Linked DNA regions of Homo sapiens: regions 1, 2 and 4 are each linked to region 3. The links come from fine-mapping of genetic effects on gene expression. A gene starts in region 3. Each other region holds a variant in brackets. All regions are shown on one strand. Distances are from middle to middle.

Region 1 (5,176 bases), 62 kb before region 3:
AGAATGACCATACTCCATGGAAAAACACACAACATAAAATAAAAATCTTAGTAACTAAAAGCATTTGCATGAAGGAAGTTAAAACATGCAAACCTCAGAAGAAATCACCATGGGTTCTTCAAAAGCTGGCAAATCCACTGAAATACAGGCCAGTCTTCCAACAGTACCAGCTACTATAAGGCCACTATGATTTGTCCAGGCAGTTAAGACCAGAAGGAGCGTCACGTAGCCACATTAGCGGAGTAAAGCAAAACTCACCACATCATGACAATCAGTTATTTCCACAGTGAGCCATCCTTTGTAATAGGTTTAGCCCTGTTTCTCTTAGGTAGAAAATATTTTTACTATTAGTTTAAAATGTGTTTTAATTGTAATGATCACAACGTCAAAATTTAAATCATAAATCTCCTGAATCTTTCTAAAACAAATGAAGAAAAGAACAACTTAAGCCTAAGATTACTCTTTAGACGAAGTCATCTTTAACAGAAGCAAGTCAGTCAGAATGAACAGGTAAAGAAAAAAAAAAACAAAAAAACTAAGCATAACAGGATATTTCTAGGGAAAGTAAAAGAGGGATATTCTAGTCAGTTCTAAGTGCTCCAGGCACTCCTAAAAAACCTCCACAGGCCAGAAAGTTGAAGATAAATAAAAGGACCAATTGCAGGACCTACCTGCCATGAGCAGTAATTTTCAAAGACATAAATCCACATAGGGGTGAAGTGGAGCACTAACCTTTGGGAAGGTAGGAAATCTTCCTGGTGACAGACAGGATAGACTAGAATAAGACTTAGCCTAGCTCCTTATCTTCCAAGTTGTCAAAATAGTCATTTTCACTGTAACACAAAGAAAATTTCTTAAGGGACCCTTGGTTTATGGACAAATCTGAGGATTCTACCTTTTCCTGAGAAAATGTATTTTCAAGTTAGAGAGGAAAGGGCAAATAACCTAATAAAATATTTTTCTTCTTCAGCATTTATTGGACACTTGCTTTTGGTGTCTAAAGTGAAACTGCTTTTTAAAAATGAGAGAACATCCAGGCTGGCCAACATGGCAAAATCCTGTCTCTACTAAAAATACAAAAATTAGCCGGGCGTGATGACGTGCACCTGTAATCCCAGCTACTCGGGAGGCTGAGGCAGGGAGAATCGCTTGAACACGGGAGGTGGAGGTTGCAGTGAGCAGAGATTGCGCCATTGCACTCCAGCCTGGGCGACAGAGCGAGACTCTGTCTCCAAAAAAAAAAAAAAAGAGAGAGAGGGAGAATATTTGGCAGGGTGCAGTGGCCACACCTGTAATCCCAACATTTTGGTAGGCCAAGGCGGGCAGATCACTTGAGGTCTGGAGTTCTAGACCAGCCTCAGGAGGTGGAGGTTGCAGTGAGCCGAGATTGCGCCACTGCATTCCAGCCTAGGCAACAGAGTGAGACTCCATCTCAAAAAAAAAAAGAAAGAGTATTTGAAACCAATGACTGAAAGTGATGGGCAGATGTGAGAGAAGGGTCTCCAGAAGCTTTAGCTCTATTGCCAGTGTTTTAACTCACAAGCAGGACAGTATGAACAGAGGTGTTTATTATTCTTTGTCTAGCAGTATGTCTGAAATATTTCAAAACATGTTTGCAAAAGAAGAAATAAAAAAAAATATATAAGAAGCAAATTTAATACACTAGGAAAACTCCCATAGACCAGGGCAGTAACTGATGGCAAGTGGATTTTAACTCAGCTCCATTAACCCATTATGTCTTAAGAGCACCATTTCTGTTAAAATTAAAGAAGGTTTTACACATAAGGAAATTCACTTGATTATGGAGAAAAGGAAAACAACAGCAAGCCAAGGCTGTGATCTCTGGTAGAAAAACGGTATTTGATGCATAACAGGGCTATAAAACTTTCTCTCTTCCTTAAGCTGCAGAGTGTTAAGCGTTGGTAACAGAATTTTCAAAGTGGCTTATTCATTTCAAGATCTATGGTATTTGAAATAAGTTAGTACTGTACCTGAAGAGACATTCTGTATCCTCCCTCCTTTCTAGTACAAAGTTCTGTCAGCTGTGTCCACTTGATATCCCTAGTCAACTAGGCTTTTAAGAAAGGGCTTCATTCTTTAAAAAATAATAATGCTATCATTAGGCCAGATGGAAGGGTTCTGCAAAGTCACAAACAAGAATAATTTCTAATCTGATAACACATTATTGGCTTTAAGACAAAAATGAGTATTTCTTATATTTTTTTAAAATTAAATTAAAGTTCTGAGATACAAGTGCAGGATGTGCAGGTTTGTTACATAGGTAAATATGTGCCATCGTGGTTTGCTCCACCTATCAATCCATCACCTAGGTGTTAAGCCCCGCATGCCTTAGCTATTTATCCTGATGCGTTCCCTCCGCCTGACCCCCACCCCACCAACAGGCCCCAGCGTGTGTTGTTCTCCTCCATGTGTCCATGTGTTCTCATTGTTCAGCTCCCACTTGTGAGAACATGTGGTGTTTGGCTTTCTGAGGAAAATGGCTTCAAGCTCCATCAGTGTCCCCGCAAAGGGCACAATCTCATTCATTTTTATGGGTGTATAGTATTCCATGGTGTATATGTACCATGTTTTTTTATCCAGTCCATCACTGATGGGCATTTGGGTTGATTCCATGTCTTTGCTATTCTGAATACTGCTGCAATCAACATACACATGCATGTATCTTTGTAACAGAATGATTTATATTCCTTTGGGTATATACCCAGTAATGGGATTGCTGGGTCAAATGTTATTTCTGGTTCTAGGTCTTTGAGGATTTCACCAGTCTTCCACAATGGTTGAACTAATTTACATTCCTACCAACGGTGTAAAAGTGTTCATATTTCTCCATAGCCTCACCAGCATCTGTTGTTTCTTGACTTTTTAATAATCACCATTCTGACTAGCATGAGACAGTATCTCATTGTGGTTTTCATTTGCATTTCTCTAATGGTCAGTGACACTGAGCTTTTTTTCATGTTTGTTGGCTGTATAAATGTCTTCTTTTGAGAAGTGTTTGTTCATGTCCTTTGCCAATATTTTTTTTTTTTTTTTGAGACGGAGTCTC[G/A]CTCTGTCGCCCAGGCTGGAGTGCAGTGGTGTGATCTCGGCTCACTGCCAGCTCCGCCTCCTGGGTTCACGTCATTCTCCTGCCCCAGCCTCCTGAGTAGCTGGGACTACAGGCGCACACCACCATGCCTGGCTAATTTTTTGCATTTTTAGTAGAGATGGGGTTTCGCCAAATTAGTCAGGATGATCTCGATCTCCTGACCTCGTGATCCACCTGCCTCAGCCTCCCAAAGTGCTGGGATTACAGGCATGAGTCACTGTGCCTGGCCCTTTGCCAACTTTTTAATGGGTTTTTTCCTTGTAAATTTGTTTAAATTCCTTGTAGATTCTGGATATTAGACTTTTGTCAGATGGATAGATTGCAAAAACTGTCTCCCATTCTGTAGGTTGTCTGTTCACTCTGACGATAGTTTCTTTTGCTGTGCAGAAGCCCATTTGTCAGTTTCTGCTTTTGTTGCCATTGCTTTTGATGTTTTCATCATGAAATTTTTGCCCATGTCTATGTCCTTAATGATATTGCCTAGATTTTCTTCTAGGGTTTTTATCGTTTTGGGTTCTACATTTAAGTCTTTAATCCATCTTGAGTTAATTTTTGTATAAGGTGTAAGGAAGGGGTCCAGTTTCAATTTTCTGCACATGGCTAGCCAGTTCTCCCAGCACCATTTATTAAATAGGGAATCCTTTCCCCATTGCTCGTTTTGTCAGGTTTGTTGAAGATCAGATGGTTGTAGATGTGCAGTTTTATTTCTGAGATCTCTATTCTGTTCCATTGGTCTGTTTTTGTACTAGTACCATGCTGTTTTGATTACTGTAGCCTCGTAGTATAGTTTGAAGTCAGGTAGTGTGATGCCTCCAGGTTTGTTCTTTTTGCTTAGAATTGTTTGGGCTATATGGACTCTTTTTTGGTTCCATATGAATTTTAAAGTTTTTTTCTAATTCTGTGAAGAATGTCAACAGTAGTTTAATGGGAATAGCATTAAATTTATAAATTACTTTGGGCAATATGGCCATTTTCATGATATTGATTCTTCCTATCCATGAGCACAGAATGTTTTTCCATTTGTTTGTGTCCTCTCTGATTTCCTTCAGCAGTGGTTTGTAGTTCTCCTTGAAGAGGTCCTTCACTTCCCTTGTTATTAATAGCTATAGTTCTGGGTATTTTATTCTCTTTTAGCAGTTGTGAATAAGAGTTCATTCATGATTTGGCTCTCTGCTTGCCTACTGTTGGTGTATAGGAATAGTTGTGATTTTTGCACTTTGATTTTGTATCCCGAGACTTTGCTGAAGTTGCTTATCAGCTTAAGAAGCTTTTGGGCTGAGACAACAAGGTTTTCTAGATATAGGATCATGTCACCTGCAAACAGAGTTTTACTTCCTCTCTTCCTATTTGAATACCCTTTCTTTCTTTCTTTTGCCTGATTGCCCTGGCCAGAATTTCCAATACTATGTTGAATAGGAGTAGGGAAAGAGGGCATCCTTGTGCCAGTTTTGAAGGGGAATACTTCCAGCTTTTGCCTATTCAGTAAGATACTGGCTGTGGGTTTGTCTTACATGGCTTATTTTGAGGTATGTTCCATCAACACCTAGTTTACTGAGAGTTTTTAACATGAAGGGATGTTGAATTTTATTAAAGGCCTTTTCTGCATCCATTGAGATAATCATGTGGTTTTTGCCTTTAGTTCTGTTTATGTGATCAATTATGTTTATTGATTTGCATATGTTAAAACAGCCTTGCATCCCAGGGATGAAGCTGACTTGACCGTGGTGGATGGATAAGCTTTTGACATGCTGCTGGATTTGGTTTGCCAGTATTTTACTGAGGATTTTTGCATCGATGTTCATCAGGGATATTGGCCTTAAGTTTTCTTTTTCTGTTGTATTTCTGGCAGGCTTTGGTATTGGGATAATACTGGCCTCATAAAATGAGTTATAGGGGAGTCCCTCCTTTTGTATGTTTGGAATAGTTTCAGAAGAAATGGTACCAGCTCTTCTTTGTACCTCTGGTAGAATTTGGCTGTAATCTGTCTGGTCCTGGGCTTTTCTTGCTTGGTAGGCTATTTATTACTGCCTCAATTTGAGAACTTGTTATTGGTAGATTCAACGTTTTCCT
Region 2 (5,203 bases), 29 kb before region 3:
CACCATCACAGTTCACTGCAGCTCAAGCAATCCTGTCTCAGCCTCCCAAGTAGCTGGGACTATAAGCACGTGCCACCACCATGCCTAGCTAATTTTTCTTTTTTTGTACAGATGTGTCTCACTAGATTGCCCAGGCTGGTCTTGACCTTCTGGCCTCAAGCGATCCTCCCACTTCAGCATCCCAAAGTGCTGGCATTACAGCAGTGAGCCACCACGGCCAGCCACGTCTCAATCATTTTAATAGGAACTAATTCAAAACCAGCTACCTCAGTTCCATAACATCACATCATATACTTAATAACTCCAACTAATTTTCTACCCAAATTATGCTTTTGTTTTCTACTTGTTAACATCAATTCTCATATTAACCCACTTTACCATTAAAAATCTTCATCTCTTTAGAATTTATTCATATGTAGTCAGTAGTTTATCAGAAGGCAAAAAGATTTAGGGTCCTTGCCTTACGTATGTACTAATGGTCTAATGAATTAATCCAACAGGTGAAAAAGGTCACACATCCATGGTTGTTACCGTAATATTGTGTTTTTTAAAAATGTATTCCACGAAAAATTTCCATATTAACTGTATATGCTTCAAAACTGACATTTTTAAAGTCTCAAAATATTCTCAGTATATTCTTGGTATTATTCTCACAAAGTCTTAATGTATAGGGTATTTAAATCAGACAATTTAAAAATGAAAAAAAAAGTCTATTTTTACACAGGGATAAAGCAAAGAGCTACTTAATACTCAATAACCCATGGTCTTTGAGCAGTTTTTCTGATCAGGAATTTATACTGATTTATCCACATACAGCACCCTCCAACCCCTACCTCCCATCTATTTTCCTTAAAACCCAGGCCATTCATTTCTACAAAGTTAGGCATTGACAAGGCAAATAAGAAATATATAATTCATTTGTAATACGCCCAGCCATATTTGAGAGTATCTGGTTATGAAGCAAGACTGTGGCCTCACTAGCACACTGTTCTAAACTGCCAACTTAAACACAAAGCTCTAGAAGTAAGATATGTTAACACTCAAAACATTATCATGAAAAAGATCTTCTAATTAGGATGTTACTCCACTCATCCAAATATCAGACTTTTTTTTTTTTCTTTGAGACAGAGTTTCGCTCCTGTTGCCCAGGCTGGAGTGCATGGCACAATCTCAGCTCACTGCAACCTCTGCCTCCTGGGTATAAGTGATTCTCCTGCCTCAGCCTCCCGAGTAGCTGGGATAACAGGCATGCACCACCACGCCCGACTCCAAATGTCACTTTTTAAAAGCAACTTTAATTTTACAGTCTGAACCTGAAAAGGAGGTGGTGGGACACATACTTGGAATTCAAGAATAGGTTTCAAGTCCTTGAAAATTGTTCCAAAGGAAATAGAATCACTTTCAGATCTTACCCAGACAACAGTACATAAGAAAACCAAAATTACCCATAATTATACCACCCATTATAACTATCATTAACATTTTGAGATATATTTCCTTTGATTTTCTGATGTACATAAATTAAATTGGGGTTACACCATGCATAGTTTTATATCCTGCCTTTTTACTTAATATTTAAATATTTGTATACAGCATATCTATCATTTGTGTATACCATAACTTAACCAATTTCCTATCTCTAGACATTTAAGGAATACTGCAAGAAAAATATATGTATTTTGCACATCTCATATTTTCTTCCAGGAAATAAATTTCAAGAAACAGAATTACAGAATCAAAGGACACCAATATATTTAAGGATCTTAATATTGTCAAATGGTCCTCCATAGAGGTAAGGCCAACTTACATGCCTCCCAATAGAGTACCTGTGACCTCATTCACAATAGTGCTTTAAATTTAAGTCAAATCCATTTCCTTTTACCTTCTCCATCTAAACCATAATCGTTTCCCTTGAGTTTGGTATACTCCTGGCTTAAGACCTCTGGTCTTTTAATCACTCTCCCTTATACCCACTTCTACTTAAGGTAACTGAGGTCTAGAAGCTAACTTTATTCACCGTTCCAATATTTTCTAATCAATGATTCTTGTTATCTGAGATGCCCATCTCCTCAAAACAATAGAAAAGTTTAAAACTATTTACATTGTTTTACAGTGTTTCCATTGTGATTGTGAAAATCCTCCTATGGAAATAAAACTAAATCATTAGAGATCTGATTTACACATGCAAGAGTTACCTCAAAAGACAAAA[G/A]TCAAAACTATTTTCAAATAAAAACTCCAATTTCAAACTGAAAACACAACAGACATTTTGGAACCAAGCAGCTGTAAGTTTGAACCCCAGTATCAGTTTGTGATTTCTTGGGTCCAAGAGCTTATAATTTCTTCATTCCAATAACGCTGGCACTTGGAATGGAGCCTGGCATTCAGCAGGAGTTCAATGAATGGCTGTTATGTAAATAATAATTGGCAAATACATTTGGTATCTTCTCTGAGTCCCATTTTCCTCATATGAAAAACATGAGGACATCATTGCTTATTTTCACAGTACTGACAGCAAGACTGAGCAGACAATGTATCTGAAGGTGCCTAGTACAAAAGGCTGACCCACTGTGGATCATCAAAATAAGTGGTGACCACAGCCCACACAGTTGAATAGACAATTACAAAATACAATATACCTAAGCAAACTATCTGAAGCAGCTACTTCCATTAACAGAATATGAGACATAAAGCTCAACTATTCAAATGATTAAAAACCATGACTGCAAGAAGAAAAATAAAGTAACCTGAAAAAAAATAGAGAAAAGCCAACTAGTAAATACCCTACCAAATTTTAATTTCCTAAAAAGGGCAATATTTACAATATTTAATGTGTTTAACATAAGCACACCGAAAATAACAATTTTGAGATTAAAACTACCCATGCTAAATCAAAGTACTTAAATTTTTGATGGGTTTTTACAAAATATCCCTCACTCCATTAATCATACTTATGAATATTAATCATAAGGAAAATACTGTAAAACAAAAGCTTATCAGCATTAAAATAGATCTGGAAAATATTTTAGGAATCTATTCATTTCTCATTTCTTTTTTTTTTTTTTAATATAATAATAGAGACTGGTTTTTGCCATGTTGCCCAGGCTGGTCTCAAACTTCTGGGTTCAAGCAATCCACCCACCTTGGCCTCCCAAAGTGCTAGGATTACAGGCATGAGCCACTGCGCCCAGCCATTTCTCATTTCTTAAATGGAAATTCCCTTCTAAATCAAGTCATATTTTAGTCTATTTCCTTAACTCCTTCTGCTGTTACATGACTTCAGTCACCTCAAAGTAACCCAGGAATCAAATTTTTAGAAAAGACATTCATAATACAAATAAGCAGCAAATATCTCTAATGATTATCCCATCATGGTCCAAAGCCTGGCAAATATTAAGTCGTATTTTTATTAAATTAGCACACATCCAAAAAAAAATACTTTAACTCAGTATCCAGAGACAATATTTAGCATATTTAACAAAAGCACACCAAAACAATCTCTTGGTCTACAATGGTAAGGTTAAATCTAAGGCTCCCAAATAAAATTTACAAAACAATTTCCTTGATCATTTTTAAATTCTAAAATGTACAGATCTCTAGGCCCATATATGGGCCATCTCTGTAGTGTCTGCCCAGACAGCAAAGGATGCAGCTGGCAGGCTGCCTCCCTTTAATCTTTCCTTAGAGCAGGTGTTAACGAGATCAAGGTCAGAAGTTCAATCAGGAATGGTCCAACTAACTTTGTTCAGAGAGAAACTCTCACAGTCACAGAGGACATCCCCTAGCTTCAGTCACTCACCTAATAAATGTTTATCTATTATTCATGATCACTAACAGAAGAGACAATTCAAGATGAACTACCGATTGTGGGTCAGAGGCATTTTTGTGTAAAAGATCACATGTGCCCTCTGGCACCTGAAAATTGTATTTGTTACCAACACCTAAAATGTTCACAAGTTTTAAGCGCCTGTTGCTGCTGCCTGTGGGAGGTTTGGCCGCTATAAAAATTGGATGGTGACCCAAAACAGTAATTTTTTAAAAAAGAAGAGGAGGGTAAACGAGATGAATTTCTCTGAAAACCCTCAATTAAACTTACCGGAAGTTTTGGTTCTTTATTGGGTAAAACTACTTTGACATTATAAGCACCTAACAAATGTTTTCAAAATAGGCTAAAATGCAGGAATTTTTCTACATTGAGTCAAGTCTTTTGGCTTCAAACATTTGCCAATGGAATAGAGAACTATGAGACATTCAGCCATGTGCCTTATTTTGTTTAAATAACAAATCACTGATATCTAGGTGACCACCAACTGTTAGAACTTAAACATCTTTATATAAAAAAAAGACTGCTAGTAAGCAAGCCACTTATAAAACAATGTATAGAAATTAAAATCCTATTTTTCTAATACCATGATCCCTAAACATTGGCTTAACATATTTATGAAGAAAAGCAAAACAATCAGTGTAGCACTGATAATCTCCTAAACCAGATGTTCTTAAATTAGCATAGCCACATCAATAGGATCCTAGTGGCTCCCAAAGGTGCTCTGGGGTTCCATAAATGTTTGGCTTGCATTTCACTTTCAAAATATCCTTTATACTTGCAAAGCTGTGACACTGTCTCTGTCACATATAATAATGTGTAATGAAAAACAGCATACACACTTAAATGTGTTAAAAATCAAACGCAAACACATCCCTTAAAGCTGCCAGGCCACTTTGATTTTATGCAGACCTAGGAATAAAGTTTCTGCTGCCAGCTTTTTCCGCATATCTCAACTTCTTGTAAACATGTCACTGATTAGGAAGGCTGCAGCTTCACACTGAACATTCTTAAAACTCTGGTTTGCACATAGCTACTTAAGTAAAATTATACTCAGGAATAGAAGTTGTCTGTAGAAATAGGATTTCCTCAATAGCATACAATCAAAATAAAATGTGAAAATAAAAAGCAGCAGCTGTGATTATAATGGCATCCATAATCCAATTACAAATTTAAGTCTTAATGTTCTCAATTTAGAAGAAATTTGCACTAATGAAACAAATGTACGCTAATGAAGAGTCACTTATCTGTGACTTTTTTCTCGCTATGAAGAAGTTAAATTACTAAAACAGTCTAAATAGTCAAATAATAAATTCACAGATTTTGAATTTTCTTCCACAAGGTAACAAGCAGTACAGCCAGAGGACTTTGAAATCTCTATGG
Region 3 (5,177 bases):
GGTACTTCACTGTAAATCTGAATCTCCTGTTCCAGTGCAGAGCTAGTCACCAATAGTAGCGAACCCTTGCAAGCAATTCAATTGGAGTTCACCCAAACCCTCTATAGTTGAGTTATTCTGCTGTATCACTCCATTAAAATTTAAATAGCATTGAAAACGAAAACGTGATACTACAGAAATGTATGTCAATTCAAGAATGAAAAAATGGAAGTATATTAATGAGCTATAAAATATTAAAAGAGCAATGATCCAAATACGTCTTTGAAAATTAGCAAATCAACTAGATATATATAATATGTATATACTGAATGTATATACCTATATAATATGTATATACTGAATGTATATACCTATATAATATGTATATACTGAATGTAAAATGCTGCAAACCAACTACACACACACACTCTCTGAATGTAAAATGCTGCAAATTCCTTTAAAATGTAAACTGCCATGCTGTAAAAATGGGAGAAAGATGTCAAGCACGGTGCTATCTGCAACATAACTTAAGCAACTTGAACTAGAAAATGCAATATGATCTGTTGCTGGACACAATTGCACAATCTCAATTACCCAGAAGATTCTACCAAACAGGAAATTCATGATGTGACTTTGGGAAACACAGAAATCATATTTAAAGATTAACACATCCAAAAGCCTGGAATTTGTTCCAAAACAAAAAAACGATTTTACAGGCCCGTTTTCAAATGACGCATACAATACGAATTACTAAAACACAGAAAAAGCTAACAGTTAAATCTGATACTTAGTTTAAGATCCGTAGCTTTCAAATTATAGAAAATCTAAAATACAGGGTATAAAACCTTGGAAGTTAAGAGAGCAGTTAGTGAAATATTTCAGGTCTGGAAATTATATGCTATCGACTTAATTTAAAACACACTCACGGTGTAAATTAAAGCTAAAAAGTATCTCTTCCCTTCCTTTTCTATGTGGTTCCATATCCTTACGAAAACCATCGTGTACCTCAGGCCATAAATGCAGATAACTAGATAACTCCCTGCAAGCTCTCTAAGGGACTTTTAAAACACAGTATTCGCAGGAATTATCTCAAAAAATATTTACAATACCTCCCAGCACTGTTAATAACTTTTTGATCTTGAGGGCGCCTTACAGATCTGAATCTTTCTTGCTCCAAATGAGAAAATTGTTTTGTCGAACAATACTTAAATGAGCAGTGGTATGTGACTAATCAGTGAGCCTGCCAGTTTCTCAAGCTGCAGTGTTCTTGCAGGCACTACCACCGCCGCCCCTCCACGGAAAGGAAATACGCTTTCAACCGAATCGGAAACACACCACTCAAGCTGGCACAGTGCTCACCGAGATAAAGTCGGTATTTTAAGCTCTATGGATCGCTGTTAATTCAAGTGCGAATTCAAAAAGAACGCTTTTCAAGATGGGATTTCGACAGAGTTTTGAAAAAAAAAAAAAAAAAAAAAGGCCCGGAGAGAGCTCCCTTCCTGGTCAGTTTTGTTCAGATGACCGCAGTCTTCGGGTTGGGCTGTGCCCTTCTGCTTCTCCCGGCAGTTCCCCGAGCTTGTCTGCTCAGAGGACCCAGGGTCCGGAGCCCCAGCGTGGGCGCATCACGGGAGAGGGTCCTTCTGCTCCAGGTAGGCAGGGAGACCCCCAAGGAAGCGGCCCTTCCCCCGGTGCCTGTTGCCGAGCAGCAACCCTCCGAGAGGGGAAGGCGCAGGGTGCTAGCCAGAACCGAGCTCCAGCACCACCACCTACCTCTCGCAGCGGACCTGAGTGCTGCACACGGTGGACCGCATACCTGCGTGAGTGCAGGGCGAGGGGTGCTGGAGGTGCAGAACGGGCAGAGCTCGAAGGGGCAGCAATGCCCTCCCCCGAGGAAAATTCCTGCCACTTGACGCAACGCTGAGCAGTGGAGCAGGCCTGGCCCTCGGGCGCGAGGGGCCACCCTGCCCACAGCGGCCCCAGGCCCAGCGACACTCACCACACAGAGCCATAGGCGCCAGAGCCCACTGGAGACAGGTTCTGGTAACGCTCGGGCACCTCCCAGATTGTCTTGTTCAGCTCCTGCCGGTAGAACGTGGGCCTCTCCTGAGACATTTTCCAGCGGCAGCCGCCGGGCAAGAAGGTGGCCCTGTGGGGCCCCCGCCTGCACCCGCACCCTCTCCCCGGCCCTTGCTGCCCGCCCAGCCGGGCGGGGACCTTGCGCTGGTCGCCCGCGCAGGTGCGGCTGCCGCGACCCCGCAGACTCCCGCGCGCGCGGCTGCTGTCAGCCGCAGCGGCTGGATGTGCCCCTGCGACTGGGGCAAGCCCCGCTAAGGGCAGGGACGCGCTCCGGCGCTCAAGACTGCGCCCGCCGCGATCTCCCTGCACCTTCGCCCCTACAAGGCCGACTCCGGGCTGCGTCGCAGTACTCCCGTTCCAGCTGCTGCGCCCGCTAAGGCTCCAGTGGTCGCGGTTCCAAGAGCCAGCAAACGGGAGCCTCCCGCAGTACTCTCGCGAGAACAGCTCCCGGGACTCTCCGAGAGCCGAGATTTTACCCAATATGGAACCTCTCCGCGGGCGGGGCTTCGTGAGAGAAGAGGATGGGAGGAGCAGTTCTCGCGAGAAGAGAACAATAACTGGAGACCAAAGGCAGAAACTCCCAGGGACTGTCTCCTTAAGGGCGCGAAGGCGGACCGGGGAAGGAAGAGAGAAGCTGGCAGCACACGCCTCGCGCGCCTCACCGTGGCCGGCGGGGCAAATACCTGGCTCTGTGGTGGAAAACGACACTGACAAATAGCGTGTCGGGGAAAGAGTCAAAAGATCTTTAACTGCGAGTAGTTACCAGCAGCAGAGCACCTGCTCACCTGAACCCCCAAATTCCAAAAAACACTTGCATAAAAAAGAGACAAGTGGCCGGGCGTGGTGGCTCACGCCTGTAATCCCAGCACTTTGGGAGGCCGAGGCGGGCGGATCACCTGAGGTCGGGAGTTCGAGACCAGCCTGACCAACATGGAGAAACCCCGTCTCTACTAAAAATGCAAAATTAACCGGGCGTAGTGGCGCGCACCTGGAGTCTTAGCTATTCGGGAGGCTGAGGCAGGAGAATCGCTTGAACCCGGGAGGCGGAGTTGCGGTGAGCCGAGATCGTGCCATTACACTCCAGCCTGGGCAACAAGAGCGAAACTCCGTCTCAAAAGAAAGAAAGAAAGAAAGAGACAGGTTCCGGCCAGAAGGCTGTTGCATTCCCATCTGCTCAAGGACATATGGGTTACTCTTTGAGATGCTGACGAAATATGTCCCAAAGGCAAATGTTAACCCTGCATCAAAGCTGAGGCTTTCCAGGGGCTGGGCTCAGTGGCTCACACCTGTTATCCCAGCACTTTGGGAGGCCGAGGCGGGTGGATCACGAGGTCAAGCGATAGAGACCATCCTGGCCAACATGGTGAAACCTCGTCTCTACTAAAAAAAATACAAAAATTAGCTGGGCGTGGTGGCACGACCCTGTAGTCCCAGCTTCTCGGGAGGCTGAGGCAGGAGAATTGCATGAATCCAGGAGGCGGAGGTTGCAGTGAGCTAAAATCGCGCCACTGCACTCCAGCCTGGCGTCAGAGGGAGACTCCGTCTCAAAAACAAAAACAAAAACAAAAACAAACCGAAGCTTTACATTAAAACTCTCCCAGTTAAACTTACATGCAGAAAAATCACCCTGGGAGTTTAAGATGCAAGTTCCCAGAACTCACAGGGAGTCTAATTGGGTAGGTCAGAGGAGGTCTTGATCAAGAGCATGCATTTTTATAATACATCTTAGGTGATTCTGATTCAGGAAAGTCTCTGATATCTCCCTTTGAGAAGCATTTAAAAAACCGTTACACTGAAGATTTGAAACTGACTCCTATCCTGAAGAGCCATCAGTGAAGAGGATTTTAAGCATTTAACTCAGGCCTCTTCGAGTAAGGAGAATAGGGCAGGAGTCTCATCGAATTTAGGCAAGTCAACTGACCTTTCCTGAACCTCAGTTCCAGCTTCTACGAGAGAATTCCTGCCCTGCATTCCCGACTAACAGAGTCATTTGTAAAAACCAAACAAGATAAATGTGAATGGGCAAGGCATTCTAACCCCATGCCTACATCCATTATCAACCTATGCCTATGCTAAAGCTTGTTACAATGAGCAGAAGAATCAGATCCTGTCTCATTCTCTTAGTTTCTTGTATTAGAAATAACTAGATCCAAGCCAGGACATTTCTCAACATTTCCCGTGATTATTCTATTTTGTGTCATACACACCTTGGAGGGCTCAGACTTTGCATATCTTGTCCCAACATCTAGCACAATGTCTAGAACATAAAACATGTGTCATAAATATTTGTTGAAAAAATTATGAACAGTGACCATGATTTCAAGTGGTACAGTATCCTCAGTCCTCTTCAAGGAAAGCAATATAAAACCAAAAAACAGATAGTCATGGGTGATTCATGGAAAGCTGTTTTGGATCCAATGTAGCTTAGGCTGGAATTCTCTTATCTACAAAAACATGTTGCTTGAGAATGTTCCAAACTAGGGAGGATAGGAAGCTTTCTAAGAAGTAATGGAGGGTGAAGGGGAAGTAAGAGCAAAAACATGATTGTGAAGACATGAGGGATGGGGTTGGGGGGATCAAGGGAATGAGGGAATGGTTACAAAGGGTGAGGAGGAAGCTTGGAAGTAGGAATCCTCAGAAATGCACATTTTTATCCTACAAATTGGGATGATGAGGTGAGGGTGAATGAAAGGGTAAAGATAAAGTAAGCAGTATATTCATACACTCATTCAACCAATGTGTATTAAATGCCTACTAGGTGTCAAACACTTGCAGTTTAAAAGTGATTAAAAACTACAGTTGCTGCCGGTGTGGAGCTTACAATCAATGGGAGGGCAATCATTCAACAAAAATTAATTGAATACTTCCTATGTCCACCACACTGCTGTAGGCACTGATAATAAAACAGTTAATGAAAGGGATAAAAGTCCTTGCCCTCATAGGGGTAAGATGATTTACAAAAAGGAATACATAAAGTGCATTATAAGGTAGACATTAACACAGTCATCAAACAAACAAGTGTAAAACTGTAACTGGGCCAAGCAGGAATACAAGGTGGAGTGAGAGACAGTGCTAGGGACAGGGATAGGGTGGGAGGAGGGTAAAGGGAGTGAGTGCAGATG
Region 4 (5,000 bases), 94 kb before region 3:
TCTCCCCATTACCTCTTCCCCTTCTCAGGGGCAAGGGCTGGTCAGCAGACTTAGGGCTCAAGCAGAACATCCATCCCAGCAGCAAAAGATAAGGCACCATCAGCCAGGTGCGGTGGCTCATGCTTGTAATCCCAACACTTTGGGAGGCCGAGGCAGGCAGATCACCTGAGGTCAGGAGTTCGAGACCTGCCTGGCCAACAAGGTGAAACCCTATCTCTACTAAAAATACAAAAATTAGCCGGGCATGGTGGTGCTTGCTTGTAATCCCAGCTACTTGGGAGGCTGAAGCAGGAGAATCACTTGAACCCAGGACGCAGAGGTTGCAGTGAGCCGAGATCGTGCCACTGCACCCCAGCCTGGGCAACAAGAGTGAAACTGCATTTCAAAAAGAACGAAAGGAAGGCAGGAAGGAAGGAAGGAAGGAAGGAAGGGAGGGAGGGAGGGAGGGAGGGAGGGAGGGAGGAGAGAGAGAGAGAGAAAGAGAGACAAGAAAGAAAAGGCACCCTCCCCCACTCCCCTGCACCTCCTCCACCTCCTCCTCTCTCCCCTCCTTCAGCTTTAGCACCCCCTGGTGGAAGACGGGGGTGGGGACAGCTCTGTGAGTCGGGCACCTCTCAGCCAGCCTTCTGGGTTCGGGATGACAGGCTTCCCCTCTTCACACCTCCCTCCCCACACCATCCGGTCCACACTCCCCGTTCCACTCCACCCCTAAGGCCTGCCTCCCTGCACCCAGCCCACATGTCACCCTCCACTCCACCCTACAAAGATGTGGCTGGGGTAAGGTCTGGTGCCCAGGCCTCCGCTCTGTTTGATCTCGGCCTTGTCCTTGGTAGCATTCAGCATAATATTAATCTGCATTGTCTCCTGTGACATGTCCCTCTCCACCTCTGGACAATGACTCTGTAAGGGCGAGGGCAGTATTCTGGCCACTGCTGAGCCCCCTGGCACTGTGCCTGGCCCATTGTAGCTGCTCAGTAAAGACTTAGTGACTGAACCAACCAAGGAGTTTTGTGTCTCTTCTGGGTACTACCCATAGGAGGAAGATGTGGCTTGAAGACCCAAATGGTGGGACCGAGTAAGCAATAGTAGGGGAATATGCTTGGCTAGCCTACCACAGGGTGGGATCTGGGATGTGTGGTCACTGTTCAGTCTGATACAATCTGTCCTAGGATGTTTCTGATTTTGCTGTTCTTCCCTTGCTCCCTGAGGGAAGGCCTAGAGGCCTCATCCTTGTGGGGCCCCCAAGGTCCTAGCATGAGGCTGGACCTTCGTATGGTGGTGAAAGAACCAGAGTGTACAACCTGAATCTGAGGCCTCTTCTCTTGCCACGAATTTGCACCATCCACTCCAAAGCAGGTTCCTCCCTGTGGACAGCCCTCCTCACCACTCCCACTGAAGCTCTGCATGAGCCAGATCCTCTCCCTATGGAATTGTCCACCTTTCCTTCCTTCCTCTTTCCTTCCCTCCCTCCCTCTCTCCCTCCCTTCCTTCTTTCCAAGCCTAACTCTAAACTCACATCTACAAGGAGGTGTTCCCGAGTGAACTCTAGATCCACTCACCCCACTAACCCTGTGCATATCCCTCTCCCCAAGACCCCCACTGCACACCACCCGCTTCCCCCTCCACAGGCTTTGTGACGTCCACATTCTTGAAGCGTGCTTGTACTCCTGTGAGCCAGTAGAGAGGTAGCTGAGTTCTGGGAGACAGGGCTGAGTCTGAATCTCGTGCCTCCATTTGTAGCTACAGGTGGAGCTTCCTCATCAGTAAGATGGGAGAATGTCACTTGCATAGCCAGGGACACCAGGAGGGTTTACTGAAGCAACACATGCCAGGTTGCAGGCATTGTGCATGGTGCTCCCTCTGGTCCTTCAGGACTGCTCATGTGTCACCTCCTCCGAGGTCCCCCTGACCTCATTACAAGCCATGCTCACCTGCCTTACCTGGCCTCGTGTTCTTCAAGCCCTGTGTACCTGTTTATTGTCTGCCCCCCTCTAATAGAATGTCTTGAGGTTGGCGAGGGTAGGGGCTTTGTCTATTTTGTTCATCACTGAATTCCACGTACCTGGAAGAGTGCCTGGCAGCCGGTGACTGGCCGAATGGCAGGGATGTAGCAGGGCCTTATCCCCAGCAGCCTTGTTATCGCTGCATCTCTGTCTGTGTGCAGCTGATATGCAGGCCCAACTCACCTTCGTGCCTGGGGCAGTCTCTGCTGTGCTGACCTGACAAACCGCAGTAATGGAGTCAGGTCCTGCCTGGACTCCTGTGTGCAGCCTGCCTCAGGCAGGAGAAGCTGTGCACCCTGGAGGCCACCTCCACAACCTGCCTGTCCAGGGCAGAGGCCAC[A/G]GGGTCTCCTTGCTCCACCCCTTCTAAGTAAACTATCCAATGTCAGGACACATAGATCCTCCCCAGAAGCCCTATGGACCTTGGTCAGGGGCAAATAACCCCAAACAAGACTAGCAGGGCTACCTGCCATGGCAGAGGTTTGGGCTCTGATTCTAGCTCTGTCTCTAATTTGCTGTGTGACCTTAGGTAAGTCAGACTGCCTCTCTGGATACATTCATTTTCTATTATATGCATTTAATAAACATGGAAAGAGCACTAATTACTTCCCAAAAGTTGTTATAAGAGCTTTACATACATGTAACTTAATCCTCCTGAGGACTCTATGAGATGGGTTAACAGTATCCCCCATTTTATGTATAACAATGAGACACAGAGAGGTGAAGTGACTTGCCCAAGGACACACAGCTAGTAAGCACTAGAGCTGGGAGTGAAGACCAGGTAGTCTTGCCCAGGGTCAGTGCTAGTAACCACTATGCTTAGCTGCGCTGGATGATGCTTGTGAAAGGCCAATCTTTTGTAAGAAATAAAATTAAGTAGAAAGAACATTGCAAGACCCTGTCTCTAAAAAAATAAGAGTCACAGAGAGCTCCAGGACACCACTGTCACTGTCAGCCCGAGCACAGGTGTGGCAACAGGGATGAGTAAGGGGCTGTGGAGGGGAAGCCACCCTGATCCTGGTGACTACACTTCCCTGACAAACAGCTTCTCCCTGCTTCTCAGGCCTGGTCTTCACTCCCTCACACTTGCCCAGGGCTGCCCTTCCTAAGCCAGGGGGCACCCGGATCCAGCTTTGGTCACCTGGAAAGAGGGTGCTCCAGCTGGGCAGCTTGAGGGCAGCACAGCTCCCATGTGACAGGCAGCCAGCGGCAGGCAGCCCAGCTGTGATTAATCTTCCTGTTTCAGAGCAGCCCTGCCTCCCCATAACGCCCCACCCCCGGTAGCTCTCAGTGGCCTCTAGGATAAAGATTAAACTTCTTAGTCTGTTGGGCAAGGCTTGCCCCCATCCGGACAGGCCCTGCCTTTCTTGCTAATCGGATCCTCCAAGGTGTCTGTGCCCAGGCAACCTCCATTCTAGCGATCCGCAAGCGTGCCTTCCTCATCCCTGTCACCACGTCTTTGCTTGAGCTGTTTGTGACCTGTCTGGAATACCATCCTCTGCTTTGCCAAGGAGGGGGGGTGGGGCATCCTCGTTCCTTACAACCTGCTCAGCAGCTCTTCCTGGGCTGGCTTTGCCAGGCCACTCTCACCAGCACCCTTAGACTTGGAATTCTCAGTTAACTTTCAAACAAACCTAAATTGTAAGTTCTTGAGGGCACGAGTGTCTTATTTTTCTCTATCCTCCTTACCTACCTGGTGATTAAGGTAAAGCCTTAATCCATTCAACCAAATTTTGCCAGGCACCTCTCAAGACATTGAGAATACACGGACAAATGTCACAGTTCCTGTGCTTGAGAAGCTCCTACCCTAGTGAGGGCGGCAACAGGAAACAGTGACAACACTGTCGTCGGCAGGTGGGAGTGTCAACTGGGGCAAGCTTTTAGAACCATTTGGCAATGCTGCCAAAGTGTCAAAATGTGCACCTTGTTAATCCGGTAATCCCATAGCCATCAATTTAGTGAAAACGCGAAAACAGCCGGGGGATACACACTTATCACCGCATTGCTCATCATCTGTATCAATAAAGAAAAGTTTCCAGCATCATGGTGGGGGGTGGCGGTGGTGGTGGGGGAAGAGGAAAAGGAAACACACTGCTTGGATGAATTGTCTCAGATTTGGAGAGTATGTTCCGGATGGCCAGCCTTAACAAATATAGACTAAGTGCTGAGGGTGAAATTCACTTGGCTGGTGGGGGTGGGAGGAGGAGTGAAGGTCCTTGTCAAGGCAGAACGCTGAGATGTTTCACACACATGCCATATTCACTTCTGATATTTTAAAAATAGAACATCATAGATACTCATCATCATGATGAAAACGGTGACAAAAACATATAGTTCTTACTATGAGCCACACACTGTTCTAAGTGCTCTACATTGGTTAACGTATTTAACCCTCACCACAATCCTGTGAAGAAGGCACTATTATCAATATCATCCCATTTTACAGTTGTGATAACTGAGGCCCCGATTGATCAAGCAACCTGCGGAGGTTACACAGTGTCAGTGGTGGAACCGGGATTAGAACCTAAGCTGTCTGGCTCTTGGCAGCTGAAGCCCTTTCATGCCCCTCTCTGATTCCATGCCCTCTCTCCCTCCCTAGAGGTGACCCCTCTACAAGTTGGTGTTTATTATTCTCGTCTGCTTTTAGTTTTACTATATACGTATGCATCTGTAAACGATGCCAGATAGATCGTTTTGCAGCCTCCTTTTTCACTTAAGGTTGTTGGTGAGATCTGCCAAGATGTTGAGTCGTCTCTGTTTCTCAGCCTCGGCACTGCTGACATGTTTCTGCTGGGTAATTCCTCGTTGTGGGGGCCGTCCTGTGCGTCGCAAAATGTTCAGCAGCATCCCTGGCCTCTACCCACTAGATGCTCACCACCCTCACCTCCAAGTGTGACAACTAAAAAGGTCTCCAGACATTGCCTATTGTTCCTGGGACAGAGGCAAAATCAGGGGTCTGGGGTGGTGGTGGGGGAATCATTCTAGTTCATTTGTCTTCAC

Evidence for each region. PIP is the estimated chance that this variant, and not a neighbour inherited with it, causes the effect.
Region 1: its variant is fine-mapped to the expression of MAPK14 in whole blood (TOPMed, PIP 0.98).
Region 2: its variant is fine-mapped to the expression of MAPK14 in whole blood (INTERVAL, PIP above 0.99).
Region 4: its variant is fine-mapped to the expression of MAPK14 in whole blood (INTERVAL, PIP 0.97).

Annotation. Positions count from the first base shown.
Region 1 is chr6:36,086,600-36,091,775 of GRCh38, reverse strand. All of the region lies in intron 8 of MAPK14 (mitogen-activated protein kinase 14), which reads right to left. Among named protein-coding and RNA genes, the nearest start is that of MAPK13, 41 kb to the left of the region's middle. The variant G/A (reference allele first, on the strand shown) is at 3,068.
Region 2 is chr6:36,053,637-36,058,839 of GRCh38, reverse strand. The region is part of intron 2 of MAPK14 (mitogen-activated protein kinase 14); the gene reads right to left. Among named protein-coding and RNA genes, the nearest start is that of MAPK14, 28 kb to the right of the region's middle. The variant G/A (reference allele first, on the strand shown) is at 2,210.
Region 3 is chr6:36,025,072-36,030,248 of GRCh38, reverse strand. It overlaps MAPK14 (mitogen-activated protein kinase 14), which reads right to left and starts at 2,441. Exons shown (of 12, transcript NM_139012.3): 1 at 1,976-2,441. The coding sequence starts at 2,091. RefSeq lists silencers at 443-737, 2,101-2,200 and enhancers at 2,391-2,830, 5,162-5,177.
Region 4 is chr6:36,119,582-36,124,581 of GRCh38, reverse strand. It overlaps a transcript of MAPK14 not described here. Among named protein-coding and RNA genes, the nearest start is that of MAPK13, 8.4 kb to the left of the region's middle. RefSeq lists enhancers at 619-668, 729-778 and a silencer at 3,865-3,914. The variant A/G (reference allele first, on the strand shown) is at 2,344.